Linked DNA regions of Homo sapiens. The protein of the gene in region 4 interacts with the protein of the main gene of each other region in a biochemical or structural test. Each region holds a gene or a part of one and is shown on either strand. Other genes may lie near its edges.

Region 1 (4,300 bases), on a different chromosome or scaffold from region 4:
AGACCCACCCAGTGCTCCCCACCATGCCTCACCTCTCTGATTCACAGGGTCTTTGGCAACATAGGCGACATACTCGGCTGTGTCCTGGGGAGGAAGGTCAAAAAATTTTACAGTTCTACTTTACTCCTGACCCCTAAAACCCAGTCCTTTTCAGATATCCCCACAATCCTAGCACCCCCACTTCTCTAATCAATGTCTTCCCAATCCCTAGCCCCTTGCTCTTCTCCCACCGCCTTTGCTCTGTTCCCCAACTCACCGGATCCCCGCCGGATGCAAATGAGATAGATTGCATGTGGTGGTTGGCGATGATCTGAGAATTAGGGCAGGGGATGAAGAAGGAAGGGAATGCCATGTGTCAGGCAGCCTCAGGGCCCAGAACCCTGGTGCCCCAGTCTCATTCTCTGGGTTCCTTATCCCATATCCTCATTTCCTCCTTCCCTACTGGTCTCCTGCTCTCAAGCCCTCTTCCTAGATTTTGGCCTCCTAACTAGATCTCCCCTTAGCACCCCCATCAGTGTTTCTGGTCCGTCTGCCCACCTTCACCAACCTGTTTGCAGTCTGCGGCCATGAGGTTGAGGCTGCTGGTGGAGACGGTGAGAGTGATTGGCATTCCAGCAAATTTCAGGTTACTCCTCCCCAGGATAGAGCTGAGCGGGCGGCTACAGGGCTAAGGTAGGGCCCAGGGTCTCAGAAGGTGAGGGTTCCCAGCACAGGCAAACCACACTTTTGCCTCCTGGCCCTCTCCCCACATGCCCCACACTTGCCTCCCCACTGCCCCTCCACATTTCCCAGCAGCATCCCTATCCCCAAGGACCCCAAGTACCTTTCTCCTCCTTGTCGCCCCCTTAGCACCCGGCACAGCCTCACACACCAGACTGATGGCCTCCCTGGGGAAAGAGGGGTACTCAGACCCAGCGCCTGCCTGCCTGCCTCCCACTCAACTGGGGCTGCCACAGGGCTGGGGGAGGGGAAAGCCAGGCCAGACTCCCAGGGCACTCCAGGCTCTTTGTCATGGTGGATTGAATTAAGGGCCTTTAATATTTGATGACACTGAGAGGCCACTTCCTGGCTGATTGGGTTAGGGCCTCAATGGGTATAGCCCCACCCCCTTCCAGCTACCAAATGTCCCATTCCCTTCCCAAAGGCAGCAGCAACCTTCCATCTACCCCCCTTTTCTACTCCAGCTCCACCTGCCAGCTGCTTCTGCCACCTTCCCCACAACTCCCAAGGCTGGATAGGTAAGGAGGATCCGGGCCAAAGGGGCCTCCTTTCAGTAAGAGGCGGAATCACTACCTCAGCTTTCTCTCAATCCCCTTTACTACGCAAAGATCAGCCCCCAGCAGCAGCACCCAAGTGACCCACTCCCCTCCTCTGTTTCCCATGGCCTCACTAATCCCAGGACTCCCACAATCCACTCCCTCCCCACTAACCTGGTGACCTGAGTCCGGGTGTTGAAGTCCAGGGCACGCATTGACTGGAGGACCTCCACACAACCCATGTACTAAGGGGAGGGAGAAGAGGACAGCAGGTCAGCGGCTCCCCCACCCCAGCCCCTTCACAAAGGGCCCTAGGACTTTACCCATATGGTCCCTAAGGGAAGTAAAGAGGAAGAAGTTCTGCCCACTTCCCGTGGCTACATCCCACAACCAAGGTGAAAGACAACAGGGAATGAGGAGAAAAAGAAAAGGCAGGCTAGAAGGACCTCACACACTGGGGAGAGAGTTTGGAGGGGACCGACAGGCATTGGCTGGGATGGAGTGACAACTCCAGAAAGCGGGAGGAGAATGGAGGAAAGATCAAGAAGTCATTCATTCCAACACTTATTAAGAGCTTCTGCCATGCTGGGCATTGTGCTAAGCATGCCAGGGTGGGGGTGGGGGAGTGAAAAGAAGGAAGGGGGCCCAGGCAAAGCTGGAAGGGAAGGGGCTACAGAATCGGGGAAGGGATGAGAAAGGTTTAGGAAATAGGACACTGAAACGGGGTTGTTGGGGAACAGCAGGAAAAAAGAGATTCCGGCCAAGCTGGAGTGAGCATTAGAACTGGAGGGGGTCTGCGGGGGAATGGAGAGGAGGATGTTCACTCACCCGAACCAAGTAGGAAACCCCGGGTCCCATGACTTTGTCGTTGGGATGCAGCCAGCCCCGCGTGGGCTTATTGACAAAGCTCCCGTGGCGGGTCCACTCCTCGCCCCCAAGCTGGCCCCCTTCCACCCGAGTCCTGCGCCCGCCGCCTCCACTCAGCTTGTTCATGTCCTGGAGGAGGGGTAGGGGGCCTGAGTCTGGCATGGCTGCCCCTACGATCCCCTCCCCATCATCAGCTGCCCTTCCTGGCTCCCCCTTAGACCCTGGGCGCCCCCCAGCCGGGTTGGCCAGCCTCAGGTTGCTCATCCGGGGGAAGAAGGAGCACAGGGTAGTGGGACTATCGTCCCCAGGCAGAGGAGGCAGGATGGGCCCCAGGGATGAAGCTGATGGGGAAGGCAGCTCCTCCGGGGGGGTGGACCCAGAAGCCCCTTCCTCCAGCGATGACAGAGACTCATTCCGGAGTGGATTGTACTTGGGCTTGGGGGGCAGGAGATCCATAGTTGAGGTGAAAGAGGGGCTGCTGCCCAGCCTGGCCCCCCTGCCAGTTTGGGCAAGGGGGCCAGGCAGGGGGTATCCCCAGGCCCTTAGCCTGGTTGGACCTCTGTGGCCCAGGAGTCACAGAAGTCCTGGGGAGGGAGAGGGACAAGTGGCTTCCGCTCCCCAGCTCAGACCCAGACAGTTTCAGGCCCCATCCCCGCCCAACGTGGAGCCTCTTCTCTGGCTGAGAAGAGAACAGGCTGGACCCAGCGCTTCTGGCTCCTCCCCAGGGGCGGGGAGCTAAGGGGAGAGACCAATCGTGAGGACAGTGCTGACTCACAGGCTCAGAGGGGCTGAGCCCCCACCCCGCCCCAACCTCGAACTGGAGCAGGGGGTAGGGCTATCCAAGCCCCTCTCCCCTGCCCTATACAAACAACTAGTAATCTGGGGAGAAGTAAAGTGGGGGTGGGAGGGAAGGATGGAAGAGTGGGACGGAAAGGAAGGAGATAGGAGGTCTGGGTCACTCAAAACCGGACACACGCAGGCCAAAGGGGGCAGGAAGCCAGGCAGGAGTACAGGGGAATGAGGGAGGAAACAGAGGCAGCTGGGGGTGGAAAAGGGAGGAGATCTCAGAGCTCAGCATTTCCCTTCCTGTCCTGGTTGGACACTCGAATTCCCCCACCCTCTCTATGCCCGAAAGCTGGCTGGCCCCAGCCCAGGCCACCCCCAACCGCTACCCCATACAGTAAGCCTGGGCCATTAGCATCCTCTGCTACAGCAGCTGTGGACTGGAGCTAGCGAAGTGGGGATGGGAAGTAAGTGGTCCCAATGGATGCAGAGCAGGGCCAAGAGGAAGAGCAAAGCTGGTGAAAAAAGGGGAATAAAGTTCAACCTGGATGATACATCAGGAAGCTACCAGGCAAGAAGGGAACAAGAGGACATGCTGGTCACGGCTTGTTCTCTACGTATGCCATCTACCACACCAAGACCGATGGCTCATAGCCAAGCACTGTCCTGTCTCCCCTTTCCACAGGGCTTGTTAACACAGCACACTGTCAAGGGTGAGAATGAGGCAATCAGGTCCCCACTCCCACTCCAAACCACCCCAATTCACATCCCTCCTCTTACAGGGCCCTAAGCCCCACCAAAGAGCACAGCATCCTTCACACCAGGGAAGGAGCCTGGCTGGAGGAGGTGGAAGAAACAGTTCTCCAAGAGAAGTAGAAACTACAGGCCAGGAAGGGACAGAGAGATCAGAAGACACATCTGCGTCAATAAGGACAGGAGAAAAATAAGTACAGGAGAAAGGGGTGTCAGGAGAAGATGGGTTGAAGCTGGACACAGGGAACAGTCCCAAACCCATTCCTGCCACCCACGGCTTCCTGCCACTGCTCTTCCGGAGAATGCCACAGGCAAAGCTGGAAAGTGACCAAAAAAAAAAAAACAAAGATACGTATTCCTACCGGGCGCGGTGGCTCACACCTGTGATACCAGCACTTTGGGAGGCTGAGGCGGGTGGATCACCTGAAGTCAGGAGTTCGAGACCAGCCTGGTCAACATGGTGAAACCCTGTCTCTACTAAAAATACAAAAATTAGCTGGGCGTGGTGGCGGGCACCTGTAATCCCAGCTCAGGAGGCTGAGGCAGGAGAATCGCTCGAACCCAGGAGGCGGAGGTTGCAGTGAGCCGAGATCGAGCCATTGCACTCCAGCCTAGGTGACAAGAGCAAAACTCCGTCTCAA
Region 2 (4,104 bases), on a different chromosome or scaffold from region 4:
CCCTGGATGATGTCACTGAAGGGGAGCCCAGGGTTCAAACGGATTTGAAGGGGCTGTCAGGGCAGAAAGCAGAACTAAGCCCTTTCCCCGAAGCACACCCCTTTCCCAGGAGGAAACTGTAGCCCCACAAAGCCCAGCCCCACAGGAAACCACGTGATGGAAAAAACACAAAACTCCTTCTGGGGAGAGAGTGAGAAGTGAGGTTGTGAGGTTTCCTCAGCCCAGGGACGAGGGGAGGGCGGGCAAATTTTCCAACCGCAGGGATGGGGGGAAGGAGGGGAGGACCAGTCTGTCCCAACCCATCTCACCCCTGCCCGGAGGTGACTCCAGCCGAGAGACCCCCAGAGCCTCCTAACCCCACTGGGCTACTTCAGCCCACCGCCTGGGGACAGGCTAGGACCCCAGGTAGCGGGGAGGGGGCTGAGCCCCTTCCCTCAGGCCCCAGGATGAGGAAGTCTCCATGCAAATGTCAGGCTGACCACAGGAAGCGCAGAGCCACCGAGGGACAGATGCAAATTCTCGCAGAGGAGGAGGCGCACAGACAAGGCAGAGGACACAGCAGAACCTGGGAGAAAGAGCCTCTCACACACTCCCAGGCTCAGGGGTGACACTGGCTCCTGGGACGGGTCACCCAAAAGGGCCTCCAGTGCGGCTTCCCTGGTCTTAACCTCCCGCCCCGGCACTGCCCTCCCTTCCTTCTCTCTCTTCTCTCTTCTCCTTGAACCCAGGCCTCAGCCTCCTCTGCAGGGGCCTCCTGGGGCCCTGCTCCTCTCTTCCACCTCCAGGCACTGGTCAGCCCGTCCTCCTCTCCTGGCTGGAGGCAAGGAGAAAGAGAGGACATGAGCTTTAGAGGGTCTCGGTGCCAAAAGCCCCCTGAGTGTTGCGGTGGGGAAGAGGAAGGGCAGGGGGCAGACACGGAGCCAGCCATGTGAGGCTCACAGAGAGAGGGAAGGCCTTGAAGGAGGCCGATCCAGGAAAGGAGGCCTCCCAGGTGGGCCACAGGGCTGCACCGTGACCGAATCCAGCTCTAAGTTTCAATCAGTGCCTTGACCAAAAATATTGATGCAGTTTGGAGGCCCGAATCTCAGAGAGGCTGCAAGCTGGCAGGAGCAAGGTTCCCGATCATTTCAATAACCGATCCATGAATGCAGGGATCCACGGCAAGGGCAAGTCGGCTTGGCCCAGGGGTGCATGTGAAAACCCCCTAGCGTTATTCCGCTGCCCTTTACTCTAAGGGGATCTGGCATTGAGATGCGGCTGCTGAAAGGAGCCATGGTGTCATGAGGAGCATTCAGAGCCCCCAGCCCCCAGCCCATGCCTTTGGGAGACCACAGGAGGAGTCGGGGAGGCCACAGGAAGGAAATGCCTGGAGTATTACTCTGTGCCCGGGACAGCGTGAGACACTTTACACAGGTGAACACTTCACATCGTGCTCTCAATGATCTCTGTTTGGGCCGGAGACCTATTTGACCCCACAGGACAGACCCATCCCCACGGGGCGGCTGGGACAAGGCATCAAGTGTCTTGGCAAGCATTCATCCCCATCTTCACCCCAGTGTCAGCTCCTCACTGTCCTAACATGTGCTGGGGTGAGGGGCAGACGGAGGAAGGCAGGCTCGATTCCAGAGGAAGAAGAGCTTTCTAACAACAGAGCTGGCCTGCACGACATGCTGGCCACCAGCAGTGGCCTCCCTGTCTCCAGTGGGACCTGGGTTGCAGCGGCCAGGGCTCCCGGAGTAGGGCGAGGCAGCTTTCTGTGGCTTCCTCGGGGTTAGGTGGAAAGGGTGGTAGGTTAGGCTCTGAGACACCAGGTCCCAGGACAGCAGGGAGGAGGGACATTGAGAGCCCCAGCTGGTGCAGGGAGGGGAGGGGATGGAGGGTAGGCAGCGCCGGCTGCCAGTCTCCCTGCCTCCCTGGCTGTTCAGGGTGGGAGCCGGCTCATCCCTGCTTGGGAATGGCGGGGGTGCGGAGCCCTCACCTCTCACTAGTGGGATCGGAGCAGTTCAGCGGGTACTTGAGGTGGATGATGGTGCCGTCGCGGTCCTGCAGGACACCCTGCTGCTGAGTGTAGTACTCCACCAGCTCTGTCAGAGTCGCAAACTTCTCCCCTCCATACAGGTCATAGAAATCCCCTGAGTTCTGGATCCGAATATGGGTCACCTGATCCCCCACCCTGCAGGGCACCAGGCGGTGAGGCCAGTCGGTGCAGGAGTAGAGGCAGGAGGGCAGGGATCGGCTGAGGTCCTGGGTGGGGGCACACATGGGCATGGGTGGGCACAGACAGGGATGGGGAGTGTGGGGGTTGGGGGCAAGGGAACAGACGGGGAGTCAGCACTGCCACGGGGAACCAGGAATGAGTGGTTCAGGGCCTGGATGGCACAAGAGAGTGGCCAAAATGCCCGGGGTTGCGGGGGGCCCACCTACCTGACGGAGAGCGAGAAGTCACCCTGGTTCTTGCGACTGGGCCGAGCCAGGAAGCTACCGTGGACACCTCGGCCCTTGAGCAGGGTCTCTGCATCCAGCCCACTGAGGTCTCGGTGAAACCACCTGGGCGGCCCAGGCAGGGCAGTGAGGAGGGGTCCCGTGGGCACCAGGCACCCTTGCCTCCTGTCTACCGTGGGTGGCAGGCCCTTACCTCACCATCCTGGGGGCTTCCGGAGAGGAAGGGGGCGCAGGGAATGAGGAGGTGCAGCTAGTCTGGGCAGGCAGAGAGCTCAGGGACTAAGCCTCAGATGCAGCTCCCAGTGCCGGGCCGCCTCACCACCCCCGGTGGTCCCAGTTCTGGGGCTGCCACTCCACTGGCCTGGGGCAGCCGGCAGGGCGGGGACAGGAAGAGGCGCGGCCGACCCCTTGGGGGAACTCACTTGTACTTCTCGTTTTAGAGCACAGCAAGGGAAGAGAAGCAGAGCAGGGTGGCACTGGGGGTGGGGACGGGGCCCACTTCCCACACGTCTGCAATCAAAGGCTCAGGAGCATGGCATTGCACATATGTGACAACACATGCAGTAAGGACACATGTGTGCCTTGCACACTCCAGGCCCAGATAATACTTCACGCATGCGAACCCAGACGGTCCCACGGCATCTCTCCCTCCTCCACCAGCTGCTTTTACGCAGCCCTCCCTGGCCCACGCTAATAACAATGATGGCGGTGACAACTGTCATCGAGTGAGTCCTGCTGGATGCCGGGCGCTGTGCTATAATGGCGTTCACATGCCTTGTCTGATTGGTTTCTCACCACAGCCCTATGAAACAGGGGCTATCTTTATCATTTTACAGACAAGGAACCTGAGGCTCAGGGAGTTTAAGGCATTGCCTGAGTCCATCAGTGAGTCAGCTGCAGTGCCAGGATTCAAACCCAGACAGTCCGGTTCCAAAGCCAGTGCTTTGAACTCCTATACACCAGCCCTCAGGGCTTCAAAGAACAGAGATTAAGAGCCTCCTTGTCCAAAGGGGCTGCCATGGGAGCAGGAGACTAATAGTTAAGACCTTGCCAATGCTTGCAAGAGAGAAGGGTGCCCTCCTCTAACCAACATATGCAGTTTGTCCATGCCACTGTGGCAGAGGGATGGACAACATGACCCTGAGCAGCCCTGTCAACATGGGTCCTTTCTAATTCTTGTCCCTAGGCCTCTGCCCTGCCCCAGCACTCCCACCAGGGGGCCTATCTCCTGGGGGGCTGGGGGACAAGGTCCTCACCATGGCTGATTTTCTCAGGGCTGGTTGATCTTAGAGGCCCTAAACACTAAGGTATATGATGCTGCCTACCTGTAATTCCAAATACAAACATCAACACCGCCAAACCAAAACGAGGAAAAGCAGCTCAACAGGGGATACATAAGAAACACATATTGGTGGCTTCCCCTAGGGAGGGAAACTGGGTGGCTGGAGGACAGGGCTGGGGGAGACACTTGGTTCTCTACATACCTTTTTGAATGTTATATGATGGGCATGCATTACCTTTATAAAAATAAATATGCTAACTGGGAACAATTTCTGGGAAACTTTTAGGGTACAGGGAAGGCTCTTTGTCTCTATCTGGATGCTGTTTGCATGGGTGTGTATAAACGTGAAGTTGGCCGGGCGCAGTGGCTCACGCCTGTAA
Region 3 (3,500 bases), on a different chromosome or scaffold from region 4:
CTTAGACCAGATGTAGGTTTCTTCCTAAAATTACAACATAAAGGGCAACTATTCTTTGCATACCTAGTTAGGGTTGAAGCTTTCGTAAATTCTCAAGAATCAGTTCCTCTATCTTTTACAGGAAAAGCCACCCAATTGCTACTTGAGAGAAAAACTGCAAAAGCATAGCGTACGTGTCAGGGCTACTCATTTTCCACATTACCAAGTCAAATGAACTCTATTTATCAAAAACATTTCATGCCCCTCGGGAAAAAACACCCCATTCTTTTGAGTTGTTAACTATACTCACAAAGCTCCTATAAACTTTTGAGCCTAATAGTACCCAACCACACCTTACAAAACTGAGTAACTGCTGCAGTTTTTACAAGGATTATTCAGGAACATTAAATTGTATTTGTGAGTACATTAAGGATTTTTATTACTTGACCTGAACTTAATGATCAGTTAGTCCAGGATCATTTTTACAAGGGAGAAACCAAAACCCAAAGAAAGTAAGGGACTCACTCAGCACTGTTAGTATGACAGCTGAGACTGCAACTATACCCAGACACAGGGGACACTAGAAAAAGCAAAACATGAAACTACTCTCTTGCCCCTAAGGGTGGTCTGATCAAAGGCCAAAGAATGTCATTACCATTTATAGTTTGAAAAAAAAAATCAAAGACTTGGTAACAGTCGTTATTTTATGGAGAACTATATTTTATATCCCAAAATCAAAAAGTATTTTATGAACCAACCACATGCAAAGGCCCGCTAGGCTTGTGAGAACCAGTCAGGAGGGATGAGGGAAGAGGAATTCAACAATTCTTAGAGAGACAAACATATTACCTCCAAGTTGCCTGTAAAGTTCACCGTAGGCCAAGCACAAATTTATTGTTATATTTAAAGCTTCTGTGAAACAAATCAGTGGTATCAGCTTCTACTGGCTAAGAATGCCAGCCTTTCTTCCAAAGCCACTGCAGCAGGCAATACTAAATTACCTCATTAGGCCATGACTCAAAATGTGGTGGGGGCCTTCTCCCAGAGTGACCTCTACTATTGGTACTAATGTGGGCTAATCTATTTGTTTCCATCATTGCCCCCCTAGAGTGGGAGCCAGGAACATGTTTTGTACATCTTTATACCATCAGGCTAGCAAAGTACTGACCATCAATTCAATCCCAACTCTTGTTAGGTACCTACTCTGTGCCAGGAGCAGAGGACTTCAAGATGAATGAGAAAGATACAACAGGTGGCCTCAGGAAGCTTGGGCTCCATTGGAGATAGACCTGGGATATAAAGTAGCAGCTACAGCTGGGCACAGTGTCTCATACCTATAATCCCAGCACTCTGGGAGGCCAAGGCAGGAGGATCACTTGAGCCCAGGAGTTTGAGACCAGCCTGGGCAATATAGTGAGACCTTGACTTTATAAAAATTTAAAAAAAAAATGTTTGTAAAGACGCAGCTACAATGACAGCAGGGCTTTAGAAGAGATATGTGCCAGCTTGTATGAAAACACACAGGTGACGGAACAAAACTCTGGTGCAAGGAAGCACACATTCGAGCTGGAAGATGCAAGCTAGATTGAACGGGAGAGGCATCCTCAACAAAGTGCTCAGCAATGGTATAGAGGAATGAAGGGCGAGGATGAGTTTGGAGAACGCTGCCCTTTCTTGTCTGGCTAGAATGGAAGCCACATAGGAGGGAAGGACTGGAAGCTGGCTGCCATGCTAAAGAGGAGTTTGGACTTTACAAGTGTTATGAAAGAATCAGAAGTAGTTGCAGAGGAGTGAGAGACTCAGATCTGGTTTTAGAACAATGAATTACTCTAGTGATGATGGGACCATATTAACGGGTAACCGGCTTCACTCATTTCTGCAGTGTGAAACTAGAAACCATTGCAGGCTCATAAGCAACATCTGAGAACCTAGACTACTAGTGTGGTGGAAAGGATGCCATAGTGACCAACCAGTGAAATGTGGCAGAGGGAATCACCAACTACTCCAAAGTCCCCAGCCCTCCTGGATACTCAAAATGTGAACATGGAATGGCTGGTGCCAAACTACATCATCTGGGAACAATGACCCAGCTAGAATTCCAATTTTCCTGAATATGGGCAGCATAAAGTAACATGCCCAGCCGATTTGCCAGTATTAGTTGTTACCAGAAACAAATCAGCATAAACACTGTAGGGAGGAATGCCAAATTGTGCAAAATATATATAGGCTCAGGCAGGCCTCAGAAAAAGTACCTGCTCACGCCTGCAATCCCAACTTCAGGAGGCCAAGGTGGGAGGATCGCTTGAAGCCAGGAGTTCAAGACCAACCTGGGCAACACAGCAAAACCCCATTTCTATTTAAAAGAAAGAAAGAAAGAAAAAGCAGTGCTAGGAACAGAAATTGCCAAAAGGATTCTGTAATCTACAAGATCACAAGACAGTTTTCTTTAACAAAGAGAAAAGGGAAAGAATCACACAACAAAAGGCCGTTATTTCAGTAGCTAAGTCAAAAAACCTCCACAGGAAATTTCTTATTCATTTCCACTGTGAAATTCAGTACACATTCAATTACATTATTCAATACCAGGTATTTTAATAGGTTTTGAGGAGCTATTCAAGATAAAATGCAAAATGGAGGAGAAGTAACGGCAGATAACTTGCAGCTAAGAAACAGCGGCATTACCATTATCCCCCAGCTGACTTTTTAGAACCACTGGTTGGTTTACTTACTTCCAAAAACACCAAAGTATTCCTATAAATATGCCAGTGATGTCAAATAACAATAGCAAAAAGTTCTTTCCTTCACTATTTCTACTTGTGCTCCCAGTTAATCTAATATCAGTCCAGACAATTACAAAGGCATTTACACCATTTCCAAAGTACTGATCAGACACCTAAATTTAGTTCACTCAAACCAGGGCTAAACAAGAACATTTAGATCTAATGGGTCACTCAAGATGACTAGAACTTCCCAGTCTCTCCATGTCATTTCCGTTAGTCTTTTTTTTTTTAAGTGAAGTGAGTCATAGTGTATAGATCTTTCTCCTTTGCATAAAATAGTTTTTTTTCCTCTGAAGAAAATAGTATTTAAATAAACATTATTGGCAAATTTTAATATTCATCTTTTTGGAATATAACAACATAAGCTGTATATCAGTAAGGAATTTTAGTGAACTATTGTTACAACATGGTTTTAACCTAGTCAGGCATTAGATTGTATTTCATAATGAAAACAGCTATAAAAACAAATGTCAATTGGAAGAGTGGCCCATTTTACAAAGCCTGCCTCTAACATGAATAAATCTTGCCTTCATGTCACAAGGTATTATTGCAGTCCCCTTTATCTGAAACAATCAAATCATTCACAATGAAATATAGTGAGTGGTGTCAGAGAATCAAAGAATTTACAGACGAGAAAACAAGCAAAACACCGGACCCAACCCCTCTTAAACTACAGATGGAGGGGAGCACATGAGCTATTCTTTTCATTCACTCAACCCTCTCTCCTCTCATTCTAGCTCA
Region 4 (4,789 bases):
GTGTGTATGTGGTGTGTCTATGTGTGTCTGTGGTGTGTGTGGTGTGTGTACGTGTGTGTGGTGTGTGTATGTGTATGTATGTGTGGTGTGTGTCTGTGGTGTGTGTGTGGTGTGTGTACGTGTGTGTATGTGTGGTGTGTGTGTGGTGTGTATGTGTGTGGTGTGTATGTGTGTGTGTATATATGCGTATGTGTGGGGTGTATATGTTTGTGTGTGTGTGGGGTTTTTGTGGTGTGTGTGTGGTGTGTGTATTTGTGTGTGTTGTGTGTATATGTGGTGTGTGTGTACATGTGTACATATGGTGTGTGGTGTGTATATGTCTATATGTTTATGCATGTGTGGTGTCTGTGTGGTGTTGGTGTGTATGTGTGCATACATATGTGTATGTGGTGTGTATGTGTGTGTGTGGCGTGTGTACATGTGTGGTGTGTGGATGTGTATGTATGTGTGGTGTGTGTGTGGTGTGTATGTGTGTGTGGTGTGTGTGTACGTTTGTGTATATGTGGTGTGTGTGTACATGTGTATGGTGTGTGTCGTGTGTGTCTGTGTGTATGTGTGTGTGTAGTTGGTGTGTGTAGTTGGTGTGTAAAGAGGTATATCATCTGCCTTAACTTGCATTTTTCTAATAGCTTATAATATTGATAATCTGTTTATATTATATTAGATAGCCAATAAACTATATATTAGATATTACACTAACATATATATAACTTACATATGTTATATATCTAAATCTTTATATACATATAACATATGTATAAAGATTTCTACATATTTTTATATATAAAGATTTTGATATATATGACATAGATATTAGATAGCTAATAAACTACATATTAGATATATAGATATTAGATATTACATCAACATATATATAACATATGTTTTATATATATCTAAATCTTTATACATGTGTGTGTGGGGTGTGGGTGTGTATATGCACATACATATGTGTATGTGGTGTGTTAATGTGTGTTTCTGTGGTGTGTGTGGTGTGTCTACGTGTGTGTATGTGTGGTGCGTGTATGTGTGGTGTGTGTGGTGTGTGTATGTGTGTGTGTGGTGTGTGGTGTGTGTGTGTATGTGTGGTGTAGTGTGTATATGTTTGTATGTGTGTGCGGTTTTTGTGGTGTGTGTGTGGCGTATGTGTGTGTGGTGTGTGTATGTGTGGTGTGTGTGGTGTATGTGTACGTGTGTATGTAATGGTGTGTGTAGTGTATATGTGTCTGTGTGTATGTATGTGTGGTGTGTGTGTATGTGTGCATACATGTCTGTAGTGTGTGTACGTGTCTGTGTTGTGTGTTGTGTGTACGTGTGTGTGGTGTGTCTGTATGTATGTGTGGTGTGTATGTATGCATGGTGTATGTGTGTATATATGTGTGTATACGTGTGTGTATGTGGTGTGTGTGGTGTGTATATGTGTATGTGTGTGGGGTTTTTGTGGTGTATGTGTGGTGTGTGTATGTGTGTATACATGTATGTGTGTGTGGTGTGTATGTATTTGAGGTGTGTGTGTATATGTGTGTGCATGTGTATGTGTCTGTGTATGGTATGTGTGTGGTGTCTGTGTATGTGTGTGGTGTGTGTATATGTGTGTATGTGTATGTGTGTGTATATGTGTGTGTGTTAGCAGGTTATGAGTATCTGGATAAAGCTTAAAATTTATTAATATTAACTAATATTTAATTAGTTAAATATACGTTTCACAGGTCAAGATAGAGCCAGCAGAGAGAACAGGGATCAAATCTGTCACAAACACACACATACACACACACACATACACAGATGTACACACATCATGAACACTCACACACACAGATGTGTATGTCCGTGATTTGCTTCATAAGCTAGAAATTTTGCAGATTCATTCTTACAACAGAGGTACAGCAAACAACCAGACACAACAAAGAGCTTGTGCAGGCTCGGTCATGTGTTTATCTGCTCCTTACGCCCTTCACTGTGTCTGCAAATCTGCCACTGTTTCCCCCTCTGGAGATGCTGGAGGGAGCACCTGGCTTGGACACTGGAGACTGGCTGCTGCTGAGTGGGTCGAGGAGGTTGAGGAGCAGGACTGTTTCCAGACAAGCCACTCACCAGGCACTGGGAGGAAGGTGTCGTCTATGCTGTCCTCAGTCAAGGCGCCTGTGGGGTCTGAGCTGTATCGCTGCAAGAAGCTGTCTTCCTTGATGGGACAGCTTTGCAGCTGCAGGAGGAAATGAGGGAAGGTTACTCCGGTCAGGGCTGCCCCAACTTCAGTGTTTGCAAAAATCACCCGAGATCTCCTTGAGATGCTGGTTCTGATTAGTAGGTTGGGCAGGCCTGAGAGTCTGCACCCTGGTGGGTGCTGGTGCTACTGGGCCACAGGCTGCAGGGTGGGCAGCAGGGCTGTGCTGGGTGCTGTACAGCAGAACTTTCCGCAGTGAGGGAGGTGTGCTATGAGCGGTGCTCTTCAATACGGTCACCACTAGCCACGTGTGGCTACTGGACACTTCACATGTGTGAGAAACTGAATTTTATATTTTATTTCATTTTAACTCATTAACATTTAAGTTGAAGTAGCCACATGTGGCTAGTGGTTTCTGCATGGCACAGTGCGGTCTAGACCACGGCCTCACACTTCAACAGACATCAGCATCACCTGGAAAGTGGCTCAAACATAGACTACTGGGTGCCACCCCCAGAGGTCCTGATTTGGTCAAACTGGGGCAGTGGCCTGAAAAATGGCGTTTCTAACAAGGCCAGGCGATGCTACTACTGGTCCAGGAGTCACGCTTTGAACGGCACTGTGAGGCGTGACAGCCGTGCAGGGAAAAACCCACACAGGAAGAAAACTCAAGATTATCTGGGTTAAAATTATTTAGGTTAAGGCATTTTCCATGTAAAATAGAGCCATAGTGGAGAGCTGTAAATTCTGGCTTATAAGGTGTTCATACATACCCCATTTCTATCAATGCAAGCCACGGTGGAATTGTTGCTGGTTGCACTCTGAAAAAGAAACAGAGAAGTTGCCCATGGAATGCTTGTACCACATCTCATCCACTTTTCCTGAATGCAGGTGGTGTGCCTCATGGAGGGTATATTGTGAAGGTGTTTAATTTTTGTCTTAATCGTTAGTTTTAGAGCAACTAGGTTTAGTTTTGATTTAATTACATTCCATAGTGGACCTAAAAGGCTTACAATCAAGTTGTTGCAATGCAACAAAATAATTAATACACTTAATTTATTTTGATTTTGATTTTACCATTTGGTTAAAATTGACTTCATATCCATGTGAGTTTCACTAGATGGTTATTTTCCCTAAAATTCAATTTGTTCAAATGAGTAGACACAGCTTGAGAGAGAGAGAGAGACAGAGATTTCATACCAGAGAGCTCAGGAGGGGAGTCCGTGACGTGGAGGGGCTGCTGAAGAAGCCCTGCTGTGGGATGAGGTACTCGTCGGCATCCACCACGTCGTCCATGTCTTCTTCATCCATCAGGGCACGGTAGAAGTTGGAGTCTGTAGGACTTGGCAAATGCATTCTTTCATCCCCCTGGTGCAGAGATTTTGAGGCTATTAGAATGGCCCGTAGAGATGCTATTCCACTTCTTGGCTATAGGAGCAGGGGTCTATTGCCAGCAGGTGCCTGTGTGTTTGCCAATTTTGTTATAATGAAATCCCCCTTGGTTCTCTAAATTATAGCTGCCTCCCCTCATGACATGATGTGGGTGCCTTAAAATAAAACATGAACCATCCTTTGATGCTTGAAAGCCCCTACATGAGATTCAAATAGCTTCTGAGGAAACAGAAAGGGAAGAAGCTGCAGCATTCATCGAGTGTGCACCTTGCTGTGAGGTGTTAGGGAGCGTATTTTGCAACATATTTTATTGAATCTTTGAGACAATCCTGTGAGCTTGGTTTTGGTATTCCTGTGTTATGGAAGGAGATAGGTGGATCGGCTGCCTGGGTGATGCGAAGAAGTGGAGAGTCAGGGGTGTGAAGCCACGTCTGCCTGACACCAAAGCCCAATAGACCATGCTTCTCTCTTAGACCCAGCTGAGGCTTTGGCTAGCCGGACAGTGAGGACGAGCACCAGAGGAGAGTTCAGACGGGGAGGGGGAGATGGAGTTGGGTGGGCCCCACTCACGGATGCTGCTTAGTTCACGATGTGGCCTGCGCCTTACTGAGGCTTGCTCTAATGCGCTGGAGGGTTTAATAATGCGATCTGGGACACAGGGAGGCCAGGCTGGCATGTGACAGAACACAGTGACATGAGATGCTCATTAGAGGGACTCTTCCCAATGGAAGCACAGACTGCAATTTGTACCTGAATGACAAGGTAGCGCTGGGGGTCTCGGGCCATTTTGGAGAATTCGATGATCAACTCACGGAACTTTGGGCGACTATCTGCGTCTATCATCCAGCCTGGGGAAGGAATGAGAAAAAACAGTGCAATTAGAACACTGGAAGAAATGATAAAGATGGCATTGCTTAAAGAAGGCATTGGTGATGCGACACTTCCAGTCAAATAAGTGATGAAAGAACCAAGTCTTTGTGGTAGACTTTTCTGTCTTGGCCAGCTAGTACTGGTTACTGTTTAAAGACCATGCCAGCACTGTACATTTGAATCAGAATAACAATAATGCCCTCTAGTTTTTCTACGCCCACTCTTCCTGGGGTCAGCATCCTGTGTTACGCCTGAGGGGATGGAGCAGTGTGGGTCTGTACAATTGCTCTCCATGAACTATCCTGACTGCAGGGTGCCCTGCACCAAGGTCCTCACTCAACATCCACCCTTAGCATTCCTTCA

The links. The genes of interacting proteins can lie anywhere in the genome.
Region 1: the proteins of EGFR (region 4) and SHC1 form a complex in vitro, tested with the Homo sapiens proteins (9 studies listed by BioGRID and IntAct, with this or other methods).
Region 2: the proteins of EGFR (region 4) and PTPN6 form a complex in vitro, tested with the Homo sapiens proteins (3 studies listed by BioGRID).
Region 3: of the proteins of EGFR (region 4) and PTPN1, one has a biochemical effect on the other in vitro, tested with the Homo sapiens proteins (4 studies listed by BioGRID and IntAct, with this or other methods).

The regions. Positions count from the first base shown.
Region 1 is NC_000001.11:154,967,948-154,972,247, forward strand, and holds the start of SHC1 (SHC-transforming protein 1), read right to left. Parts: upstream 2,801-4,300; 5' UTR 2,580-2,800; coding exon 2,085-2,579; intron 1,502-2,084; coding exon 1,431-1,501; intron 888-1,430; coding exon 824-887; intron 668-823; coding exon 548-667; intron 311-547; coding exon 257-310; intron 85-256; coding exon 33-84; intron 1-32. UniProt on the Homo sapiens protein: Signaling adapter that couples activated growth factor receptors to signaling pathways. Participates in a signaling cascade initiated by activated KIT and KITLG/SCF.
Region 2 is NC_000012.12:6,950,052-6,954,155, reverse strand, and holds the start of PTPN6 (tyrosine-protein phosphatase non-receptor type 6), read right to left. Parts: upstream 2,801-4,104; 5' UTR 2,644-2,800; coding exon 2,636-2,643; intron 2,548-2,635; coding exon 2,425-2,547; intron 2,174-2,424; coding exon 1,979-2,173; intron 1-1,978. UniProt on the Homo sapiens protein: Tyrosine phosphatase enzyme that plays important roles in controlling immune signaling pathways and fundamental physiological processes such as hematopoiesis.
Region 3 is NC_000020.11:50,513,383-50,516,882, reverse strand, and holds part of PTPN1 (tyrosine-protein phosphatase non-receptor type 1), read right to left. Parts: intron 1-3,500. UniProt on the Homo sapiens protein: Tyrosine-protein phosphatase which acts as a regulator of endoplasmic reticulum unfolded protein response. Mediates dephosphorylation of EIF2AK3/PERK; inactivating the protein kinase activity of EIF2AK3/PERK.
Region 4 is NC_000007.14:55,199,931-55,204,719, reverse strand, and holds part of EGFR (epidermal growth factor receptor isoform a precursor), read right to left. Parts: intron 4,405-4,789; coding exon 4,307-4,404; intron 3,533-4,306; coding exon 3,365-3,532; intron 2,986-3,364; coding exon 2,938-2,985; intron 2,204-2,937; coding exon 2,095-2,203; coding exon of another isoform or gene 1,955-2,094; exon of another isoform or gene 1,644-1,954; intron 1-1,643. UniProt on the Homo sapiens protein: Receptor tyrosine kinase binding ligands of the EGF family and activating several signaling cascades to convert extracellular cues into appropriate cellular responses.